Regions from separate parts of the Homo sapiens genome. Here regions 2 and 3 are each reported to be linked to region 1. Evidence: microRNA targets listed by miRTarBase, many of them from high-throughput screens and not tested one by one. Region 1 holds a microRNA gene; each other region holds the end of a gene's coding sequence. Distances are between the middles of the regions.
The links. Region 1 holds the annotated microRNA hsa-miR-670-5p (GUCCCUGAGUGUAUGUGGUG, at 1,201-1,220, opposite strand). A microRNA usually pairs through its seed, bases 2 to 8, with sites in the 3' UTR of a target mRNA and lowers its output. Matches are read on the target gene's strand: a 7mer-m8 pairs with bases 2 to 8, a 7mer-A1 pairs with bases 2 to 7 and ends in A, and an 8mer does both.

Region 1 (3,346 bases):
GGAAGATGAGTAATAGGGTTCTCAGCCTGAAGTCTAGGTTACTTCTTACTTCCTCCCACCTGGATTGACTTCAGGAGCGTGCAACTTGTGTAGTTGCAGGGCCCTTGGCTCAGAAGAGCTCCATGGTTGGTTTAAGATTCTACTGTTATTGTCTTGAAATTCTTAAAAATTTTGTCTTTGAACCCGTGTTTTGTAAGTGAAGTCTATGGGATAATAGAGAATGTGTGTGCCCATCCATCGTTCCTGTCCCACAATGTTGGCAGTAGCCCATGCGTACAGAATTCCAGTGGGAGCTCAGTGAGACTCGGGGCAAGTAGAATGGAAAGTAAGCCTATGACTACACAGACGGGGGACACAGACAGTGCCCAGAGGTCATGCTTTCTGTTTGAACCAGATGCTTCAAATGCAGAAGGAAGGCAATAGAGTTCTAAGAAACACTAATGCCTAAGGGACCCTAAAGTAGCATTTCTTACTTATGTTCCTTCCCTGTATTTGCCAAACACCTATGCTGAAAATGTTGACACAGAAGGAAAGGTGAAGATAGAGCAATCCATAGCTATTTCTCCTCAACAGCAAGCTGAAGGTGGAGAGTGCTGGTACAAAGCGCTTGTATCAAGAAGTGAAATAAAAACACTGGAGTTCATTTTGTCAGCATCTCCATTGTTCTGGTAAGAATGAAATACCTATGCATATGCGACATATGAAATGTGAATTGTGTAATTTCAGTGATTCTACAAATGAGTTAAACGCTCTTGTGTTTACATTTACAACTGGCATCACACAATATAAAGATGAACGGTAAAATTCATGCTAAAAATTTAAAATTTTTATTTTTATTTAGCACCACATGAAAAACAGCAAATAAAAAACCACCATGACGATTCTAGAGAGAGATTGTGGAAGAAAGACAAAGGCATTATATTTAGGCACTTTCTTCCTGCTTTTTGAACAAGGGGCCCTACGTGTTCATTTTGTGCCAGGTTCCATGAATTCTATAACCAGTTCTGCCCCTGCCCTTAGGTTTCTTTTGAGAAACAGGGCAAGCACCAGGGCTCATCCAAGGTGATGAAGATAAAAGTCGGACTTCATTCTTGCCATAAATGAGTAGACACCTGCTTGCTGTAATGCTCTCCAACGTCGCGTGAAGGGGCAACTGACACTCCTGAATGAATATGAGGAAACCCAAGGCAAATTCAGGTTCACCACATACACTCAGGGACATCAGGTCCACCCCTAAACTGGATGAAGAACGTCTCAGCTGGCATCTTCGGACTTGACAGAGAGGAAGAAGGTCTGTTTCCTTGTGTATGTGGCTCATGAGCTGACGTGGGCTCTCGTGGGTTCTCATGTGGAGAGAACCCTGGGTACCCACATGCATACTGTTGTGGTTTTTGCACATATATGTGCATGTACACTGCACATACATGTCTGCATGTGACAAGTGCTTGGGCACCTGGTAGAACCTGAGAGAGGTGGTCTTTCCATGGATCTCCGGGGAAGGCTGATGGACATGAAATACTTTTTAGGTGCTATTCTTCTGGAACTTGGTCCCTAGAAGACCACAGCTCAGAGTAAAGAGAGATACTGACAGTCTTGGAGGACTGTGGAGAGCAGATGGCTATAATTCCAGGACCAGATTTTTTTTTCTTGTAACCACTTCCCCCACAGCATTTATATCAAAGGGAGACAAATACTTGTTGACTTAAGCAATAAACAGAAACAATTTCCTTCTGAGAAGTGCAACACAAAGAAACCTGATGCTTTCCGGGCTGTGGAAGACTCTCCATCCCCCTTCTTGGAGCAGGACCTTCAGTGATATGGACAGTGGGTGTCAGGCCAGCTGACCTGGTTTTACTTCACACCGGCAGATCCAGGGATGCAGCCACCATCCACTCTGCTTTATTTAGTGAGACAGCACTTCATACCAACAGCAGGCTTAATCACAGTCTATACCAACATTTCACTTCCCATTTCTATGTCTGTACTCCTTGCCTTTTGGTTATTTGGGGTGGGGGGTGGCAATAGCATGCTGATTCTATCTTCCAAGCACCCTCCCCAAATCTCCTACTTCCCTGCTGAAAACGATTCCCTTCTCATGTTAATTTGATGACCCAGCCAGCTGCACCCCTCCGCCCCCGCACCCCCAGCGCAAAAGAAAAAGCCACTACCTTACTCCTTCAGAATTACATCCCCGCTCAGATGGTCTTCTCAACTACCAGCCCAGTCCAAAGAACCCTCGTCATATTTCCAGGCTCATCTGAACCAGACATTCAAGTAGTGCCCCCACACGGATATTTAAGGACCATGGAGGAGGGGGTATTCCCTCCTCCCCCTGTGTTCCACCTCCCAGAAGTGGCTGCTCTTCAGAGTGGAGGTGATTCAGCTTTCCTAGAAGATGATTTGCAGGGGGAAAAAAATGTACAGTACTACAGCTGAGAGTGCTGCCTGCTTCCCTCGATGAAAAAAAAAATCCTGCTCTCAGACACATGGAATTCCCATTGATGAGGTTTGGCCAACACCAGGCGCTGGATTTTCCCCGTTAAACATAAAGCTCTGGGTGAAAGACGCGGGGGAGGGAGAAGGGATAATGATATCTTTTCAACCTTTTCAGACCTCTGGGGGATTTGAACTCTGGCCCCCAAGGTCAAATGGCTGATGTTCAAAAGCCCCCTCTCTCCACCCCTCCACCTCTCTTCCCCAAGCTCCTTCCTAACAAAGAATGACTCTCTTTGCTACACACAATAAAGCCCTGGTGGATTTACCCAGATTAAAAAACCCCTTGAAGTCCCTGTCAAAACTAATCTTCTCAGGAGAAACACTTGTTGATAACCACCTCGCTTTGTGCAGCAGCAGGGAGGAACTGGGAGGACCAGAACCCAACGGAAAAACTGGCCTGTGACCTCCCTATCGTCACATGGCCCCAAGCACCATACGATCTCTGACCTCATAGAACGCCCCTCCTTCCACGACACACAAGTATTCTGCAAGCCCCTGCCCCATTTAGCTTCTCCACCTCAGGCTCCCCCCCGTTACAGCACCAGCCCCTCAAAGCAGGAAGGCCAACCCTGTAAGTCCCCAGACTGACAGACCCTGGCTGAGCTCCAGCCGTTCCCTCCTTCTCTGCCGCCCCCGAGTTTTAACCCTTCACCCTGCAGGGCTCAGTATCTCTTGTCTTTCCTGCTGCAAACTTTGTCAGGAGCCTTTTCAGGCGGTTTTCCTCTACACAACCAGCCCTTAAGATATCATGCATAAAGATTTCCCTCTACAGGTGGTTGTGAGCTGTAGCAGTTTTTGCTCTTGCAACGGAAACATTTATTTTAAATTTCATTTTACCCACGAATAAGGT
Region 2 (3,346 bases), not on the chromosome of region 1:
CCACCAGCCGGGGCCATTGACACCCGGGACACAGGGTCCTCTGAGCCTCAGCCACCACCGGAGCCGCCTCGGTCAGGGCCACCACTGCCCAACGGCCTGAAGCCCGAGTTCGCCCTGGCACTGCCCCCTGAGCCGCCCCCGGGGCCTGAGGTCAAGGGGGGCAGCTGCGGCCTGGAGCACGGTGAGAGGGGCCCTAGGGCAGGTGTTGAGGGGCCCTGGGTGCTGTATGTGACCCCAGGCAAGCCCCTGCCTGTTGTGGACCTCAGTTTCCCCCTCTTTAAAATGGTTCTCGCAGGGGCCAGCAAAGTGGGGCTTAGTTCTCATCTCCACCCTGCTTCCCTTGGGTCCTGGGAGCTCTTCCTGGGGTGGGGGGGCATGTAAGGTGTGCTGCCTTGAGCCTGACCATCTCAGCGGTCTCTGGGCACTCTGCAGGCCCTGAGGGTCTGGCTGGGGCCGGGCTGGGGACAGGTTGTATTTGCCCCACCCGCCTGACGGGGGTGCTGGCCCGTCCTCCCACACAGAACTGAGCTGCTCCAAGAACGAGAAGGAGCTCGAGGAGCTGCTTCTGGAAGCCAGTCAGGAATCCGGGCAGGAGACACTGTGACACTTTAGGTGAGGCCAGGCCCGGGGCCCACAGCACTCGGGAGGAGCTGAGAGAGCCTCTGGCTCTGACAGTCTCTCCCCCAATCTCTCCTCCCCAAGTTCCCTTTTTCCGGTCGGTCTGCGATGAGCTGAGGCCAGAGCCATGAGAATCTGCTCACCTTCCCCCCAGCCTTCCTGAGGCCCAGGATGCCAGGGGTGGGGGCCATTCTGGGGCCCCCCTCCCCCCACAGCAACACTACAAGGGGTGCAGGAGCTACAGGGAGTGGCCCTCCGCGCGTGACTCAAGCACTTCTATTTATGAGCCCAGCACTGGAAGACTCTGGGGGTGAATGGGAGGAGGGGGAGCAGGAGGAGGAGGAGGTCTCCAAGGACATCAGGCGCCTGTTCTGGAGGGGCCAGGCTTGCCCTGCGGAGGGCAGGCGTCCTGGGTGGTGGTGGGATGGTCCCCTGTGGCCCCGGGCACAGGGCCGGGCAGGCAGCCTGGTGCCGGAGAGGCGGTGCGTGCTGGTGGTGGTTGAGATGCACAGAACAGCCCCAGACAGCGCAGGCCGGGCAGGGTGGGGGGATGGGAGCAGAGGATCAGAGCTTTCTTTTTCTCAAGTGCAATAAATCTATCAGGGAGCTGGGGCGGGAGCAGCCGGCACTCCGGGACCCTGCTGTCCAGGCCACTGGAGGCTGCGCCCTGAGAGGCACTACAGCCCTTTGGGGGCGAGTGGCATGGGTGTGGGTGAGGGTGGGCAGAGGGCTGGGGCTACTCCTGTCGGTGCAACTCTGTTCACACCTTTTCTAATAAACTGGGGCTGGGTTCACTTTGCCCAACGTCTGCTTCGTGCGGATCCTGGAGGTGGTTGCTGGGGGTGGGCTGGGTGGAGGCCATCACAGCTCCTGGTTACAGAGCATCTGCCAGGGCACTGGTCAGGCATTACTGCGTCTTCCCCCACAGTCCCGTCTATTCTGCATCCATGCTCTGGTGTCTCGTACGGTCACCTCCCAGCCAGGCGAGTTTACACCCATCCTTTCTGCAGGGAGAGACAGGCCCCAGATACCTCCTGGCTTCAGGTCTAGGGTCTCAGGATGCTGGATATGGAGTGGCTCTGCCCAGTCGCCCATCGCTCAACAGGAACAGATCCCAGCCTGTCCCTGGCAGCCCCAGGTGTTGTGCAGGTGGGAGTATGCCCCGGGCCCAGCCAGCACTGCAGGAGCCTGGTGGGCGGCTTGTTCCCCTTTGCCAGCAGGGGCCTGGGGGGCCATGGGGGTGCTGTTGCGGATTTCTGAGAGGTCTGTTTTTCCCTTTAGGAAAGGGGGGAGCAGGCCGGGCATGGTGGCCCACACCTGTAATCCCAGCACTTTGGGAGGCTGAGGTGGGAGGATTGCTTGAACCCAGGAATTTGACACCAGCCTGGGCAACATGGTGAAACCCCATCTCCATAGAAAATACAAAAATTAGCTGGGTGTGGTGGCGTGTGCCTGTAGTCCCAGCTACTGAGGAGGCTGAGTTGGGAGGATCGCTTGAACCCAGGAGGTTGAGGCTGCAGTGAGGTGTGATTGCACCACTGCACTTCAGCCTGGGCAACAGAGTGAGATCCTGTCTCAAAAAAAAAAAAAATTACTAAACGAGCATTTCTGGGCCACCCATCCCCTTGTTTCCCGTGTGGGAGGCTGACATGGATGGAGGCGTTGTGGTGACATCACGAGAACCACAGTCGCAGGCTGGAGCCCTGGTGTCATTCAGCTCCTGCACACACCAGGGAGTCCCCTGCCCCCAGCCACCCTGGCCTCTGGGAGGAACACCTTAGGAAGCCACTGCTGGTTTGCTGTTTGGTCCCTTGCAGCTGTAAGTGTCCTAACTGCTCCCCAGGTCAGCCACGGCTAGGACTCTTATTTGGGCGAGGGACTTAGGGAAGCTACACAGAACAGCCGCCAGCAGCCCGCAGCACTCTTCCCATCCCTGCACAGCCAGCTTGTCCCCAGCTCTGCTAATGTGCGATGTGGCCATGGGTGAAGGGAAGAAGGGGCCCCCTCCTGGCCACTGTGGATCCAGCCCGTCTTGGTGAGGGGCCGGGGCATGTGAGGTGTTTGCATCAAGGTACTGAGAGACCTCTGTCCTTCGCCTGGTTTGGGTCAGCACAGTGCCCCAACGATCTTCAGAGGCCCTTGGTCGATATTAGCCGTTGCTCATGGTCTCAGCCTCTGTGGAGGCAGCTGTGTTGGGGTCTCACCCAGCCCGCTGGCCGTCTGCCTCCCCACCCCATGTGAGGTATGCTAGGGGAGGGACAGGGATCCTCTTCCCAGCCTGTCCCTTGATTTGCTTTCACTAAATTGAGCTTGGAGTGAGGAACTGGGCCTTTCTTACTGTTGGGGGTTGAATTGTGTCTCCCACAAAAAAAGATGTTTGTTTATTTATTTATTCATTTATTTATTGAGCTGGAGTCTCGCTCTGTTGCCAGGCTGGAGTGCAGTGGCGCAATCTCGGCTCACTGCAACCTCCGCCTCCCAGGTTCAAGCAATTCTGCTGCCTCAGCCTCCCGAGTAGCTGGGAGTACAGGCGTGCACCACCACGCCCAGCTAATTTTTGTACTTTTAGTAGAGACGGGGTTTCAACATGTTGGCCAGAATGGTCTCAATCTCTTGACCTCGTGATCTGCCCACCTCGGCCTCCCGAAGTGCTGGGATTACAGGCGTAAGCCACTGCGCCTGGCCAAAAAAAGATCTTTAAAGTCCTTACCTCCAGTACCCCAGAATG
Region 3 (3,000 bases), 22 Mb from region 1:
AAAAAAATAAAAGTTGAAACTCCGTCTCTACTAAAAATACAAAAATTAGCCGGGTGTAGTGGCAAGTGTCTGTAGTCCCAGCTATGGAGAGGCTGAGGCAGGAGAATCGCTTGAACCTGGGAGGCGGAGGTTACAGCGAGCTGAGATCACGCCACTGCACTCCAGCCTGGGTGACAAAGCAAGACTGTCTCAAAAAAAAAAAAAATGCAGTATGGGCACACGGATCAATAGGACAGATTAGAAATTCCAAAAAAGATCCATATATATGCAGGAATTTATGTTTTAAAAGATATTTCTGGCCAGGCGTGGTGGCTCATGCCTGTAATCCCAGCACTTTGGGAGACCAAGGCAGGCAGATCACGAGGTCAGGAGACTGAGACCATCCTGGCTAACAACGGTGAAACCCCATCTCTACTAAAAATACAAAAAATTAGCCGGGCGTGGTGGTGGGTGCCTGTAGTCCCAGCTACTCAGGAGGCTGAGGCAGGAGAATGGCGTGAACCCGGGAGGCAGAGCTTGCAGTGAGCCGAGATGGCGCCACTGCACTCCAGCCTGGGCAACAGAGCGAGACTCCGTCTCAAAAAAAAAAAAAAAGAAATATTTCCAGTGAGCAAAGAATGAACCTTTCAAGAAATAGTACAGGGACAAGTGACTTTCCCTTTAGGGAAAGTTTGCTACCTCTCAGAAAAAACAAACTTCAGATGAATTAAAGATAGATACACACACATACATATCTTTAACCCATCTCGTTTATTTTTTGTATATACATCTACATACATTTTATACATTATATTCATATATACATATATACAAATGTATATATGTTTAAAGCCACGCTATAAGAGAAAGTAAATGAGAAACAGACAAATGAAGTGGTAGCTGGAGGACGTGGGAATCAGTACAGGTTTTCACGCCTGTTTCAGAAATGGGAGATTCTACAGCACGCTCGACACTAACACATCACATCCATAACATATCACATCCAATAGACAGGACAGCCAAAAACACAAAACAAAAAAAGAATCAAATACCCACACCCAGACACAATACTCAACAACACAAATACCCGACCAAAGTCTTTAAGAAAGCAAAAGAGGCCGGGCACAGTGGCTCACACCTGTAATCCCAGCACTCTAGGAGGCCAAGGTGGGTGGACCACTTGAGGTCAGGAGTTCGAGACCAGCCTGGCCAACATGGCAAAACCTCGTCTCTACTGAAAATATAAAAATTAGCCAGGCATGGTGGCACACGCCTGTAATCCCAGCAGTTTGGGAGGCTGAGGCAGGAGGCTCATTTAAGGTCAGGAGTTCGAGACCAGCCCGGGCAACATGGCAAAACCCCGTCTCTACTAAAAATACAAAAAGTTAGCCAGGTGTGGTGGTGCACGCCTGTAGTCCAAGCTACTCGGGAGGCTGAGGCAGGAGAGTTACTTGAACCCAGTAGGTGAAGGTTACAGTGAGCCGAGATCACACCACTGCACTCCAGCCTGAGCAACACAGGGAGACACTCTCTCAAAAAAAAAAAAAAAAAAAAAAAGATAGTCTCCAAAACACAAGAGGTAAGGTTTAAGTCCCATTGGCTTACGACAGGAAGATATGTGCACATCTGCAGAGCTGGTAACAGGGAGGCAGGCATTCCCTCTGATGGTTGCTGTTTCTTAATGAGGCATGTGTTGTGGTAACTACCACAAGGGGGAATTGATAGATAAGACAGAAGTTTTGAAACAGACATCCCAGAGTAGATCTGCTGGGCAGTGCTTAGTGTCCATCTGAGGTTTGTAATGATAAACGTAAGGTACAACTGGTGGCCAGGCTGGCTGTTTTCTCACCTAATGATGGTGACTTGGGTTTGGGCACAGAGGTGAATGATTGGGTTTACCCAGGGTTAGGGTTTTACTAGCGGAACAGAATGGAGGGAGACAGAGGGGTGTAGGGTGGACTACGGAATTGATGCTACACAAGAGGGAAGTGAAGGCAGAAGGTTACTCATGAGAATGTCAGGGCTGGTTAGAAGAATGAAGGGTGAGGGTGGAAAAGCAGCCTCTATTTAAAAGGTTATAAGACAATCAATGTCCTCAGGGAATAATCAGGTTTCAAATAAAGTCAGGAGATGGATGGACCATTCAAAACAAAGTTAAGGATAGAGAGATTTGCCAGCCACCTTCTGGAAGTGATAGATGGTGCAGAGTGGGAGAGATGAGGTCGTATGTGGGGATGGACACAGTAGCTGGAGGTGAGCACTCCCGTACACAGGGTGACTAGAAAGGCGGGGAGAACAGCACGAGGCACCATGGGCTCCTGAGCGTCTCTTAGAGGCAGGTGGGTGTTAGGTCCTAGGGCTGTCATCCTGAATGCTTAAATTGGTATGAACTGCAAGCAGGCAAGGAAGCAGGAGTGCTCCCAGCTGTTAAACACATGCAAGAAGGCCCAGAGCACGGCCTGGCACTTTCTAAGTGCCCAATAAGAAAGAACAAACCACCTGGGAAAGACTCCAGCCATTTCCCATTTCCTCCCCATTCAGCCCACCCACCCACAAGGTCTCTAATAAATAGGGAGCAGTTTTTCACTTCATCACAATCTCCCTCCCCCGAGAGAGCCACTCAGACACCAGAACAAGTCACCAACCCACCAGGGGTTTAATTCTCTGAATCAAAAGATCAGTTCAGAGAGGAGCCCTGCTTTGTCCTCATGCAGGGGTGAAGATGTGCAGAGCACCCTGGGAATGTCCAAGCCCAGAAGAGCCAGGGGCCAGTCCCTGAGCAAGTGGAGAATTGGGTCCTGGAGTCTCAGGCTGCCTCCTCCTCTTCACTCTCCTCCTCACTCTCATGATACTGTCTGCGGTTTGTGTTAACAAACAGGTCAGAATCATCTTCTGAGCTGGACTCCTCTCCTGATAACTGTGGCTCAGCTGGGAGTTCTGGTTGAGTTTGTCTGCACGAAGGGAAGAGAGCAGGGTTAGCCCAGCGCCTTCTGGGAAAATAATATCTACAATCAAGGAGTT

Region 2: the mRNA of PPP1R37 is a reported target of hsa-miR-670-5p. Seed matches in the 3' UTR shown: 7mer-m8 at 1,218-1,224.
Region 3: the mRNA of EIF1AD is a reported target of hsa-miR-670-5p. Seed matches in the 3' UTR shown: 7mer-m8 at 2,752-2,758.

The regions. Positions count from the first base shown.
Region 1 is chr11:43,557,549-43,560,894 of GRCh38, reverse strand. MIR670 (microRNA 670) reads right to left here and starts at 1,239; the gene lies at 1,142-1,239. It also overlaps a transcript of HSD17B12 not described here.
Region 2 is chr19:45,145,869-45,149,214 of GRCh38, forward strand. It overlaps PPP1R37 (protein phosphatase 1 regulatory subunit 37), which reads left to right. Exons shown (of 13, transcript NM_019121.2): 11 at 1-181; 12 at 522-612; 13 at 703-1,417. The coding sequence ends at 604. Among named protein-coding and RNA genes, the nearest start is that of NKPD1, 13 kb to the right of the region's middle.
Region 3 is chr11:65,995,814-65,998,813 of GRCh38, forward strand. It overlaps EIF1AD (eukaryotic translation initiation factor 1A domain containing), which reads right to left. Exons shown (of 6, transcript NM_001242481.2): 6 at 732-2,930. The coding sequence ends at 2,786. Among named protein-coding and RNA genes, the nearest start is that of EIF1AD, 4.8 kb to the right of the region's middle.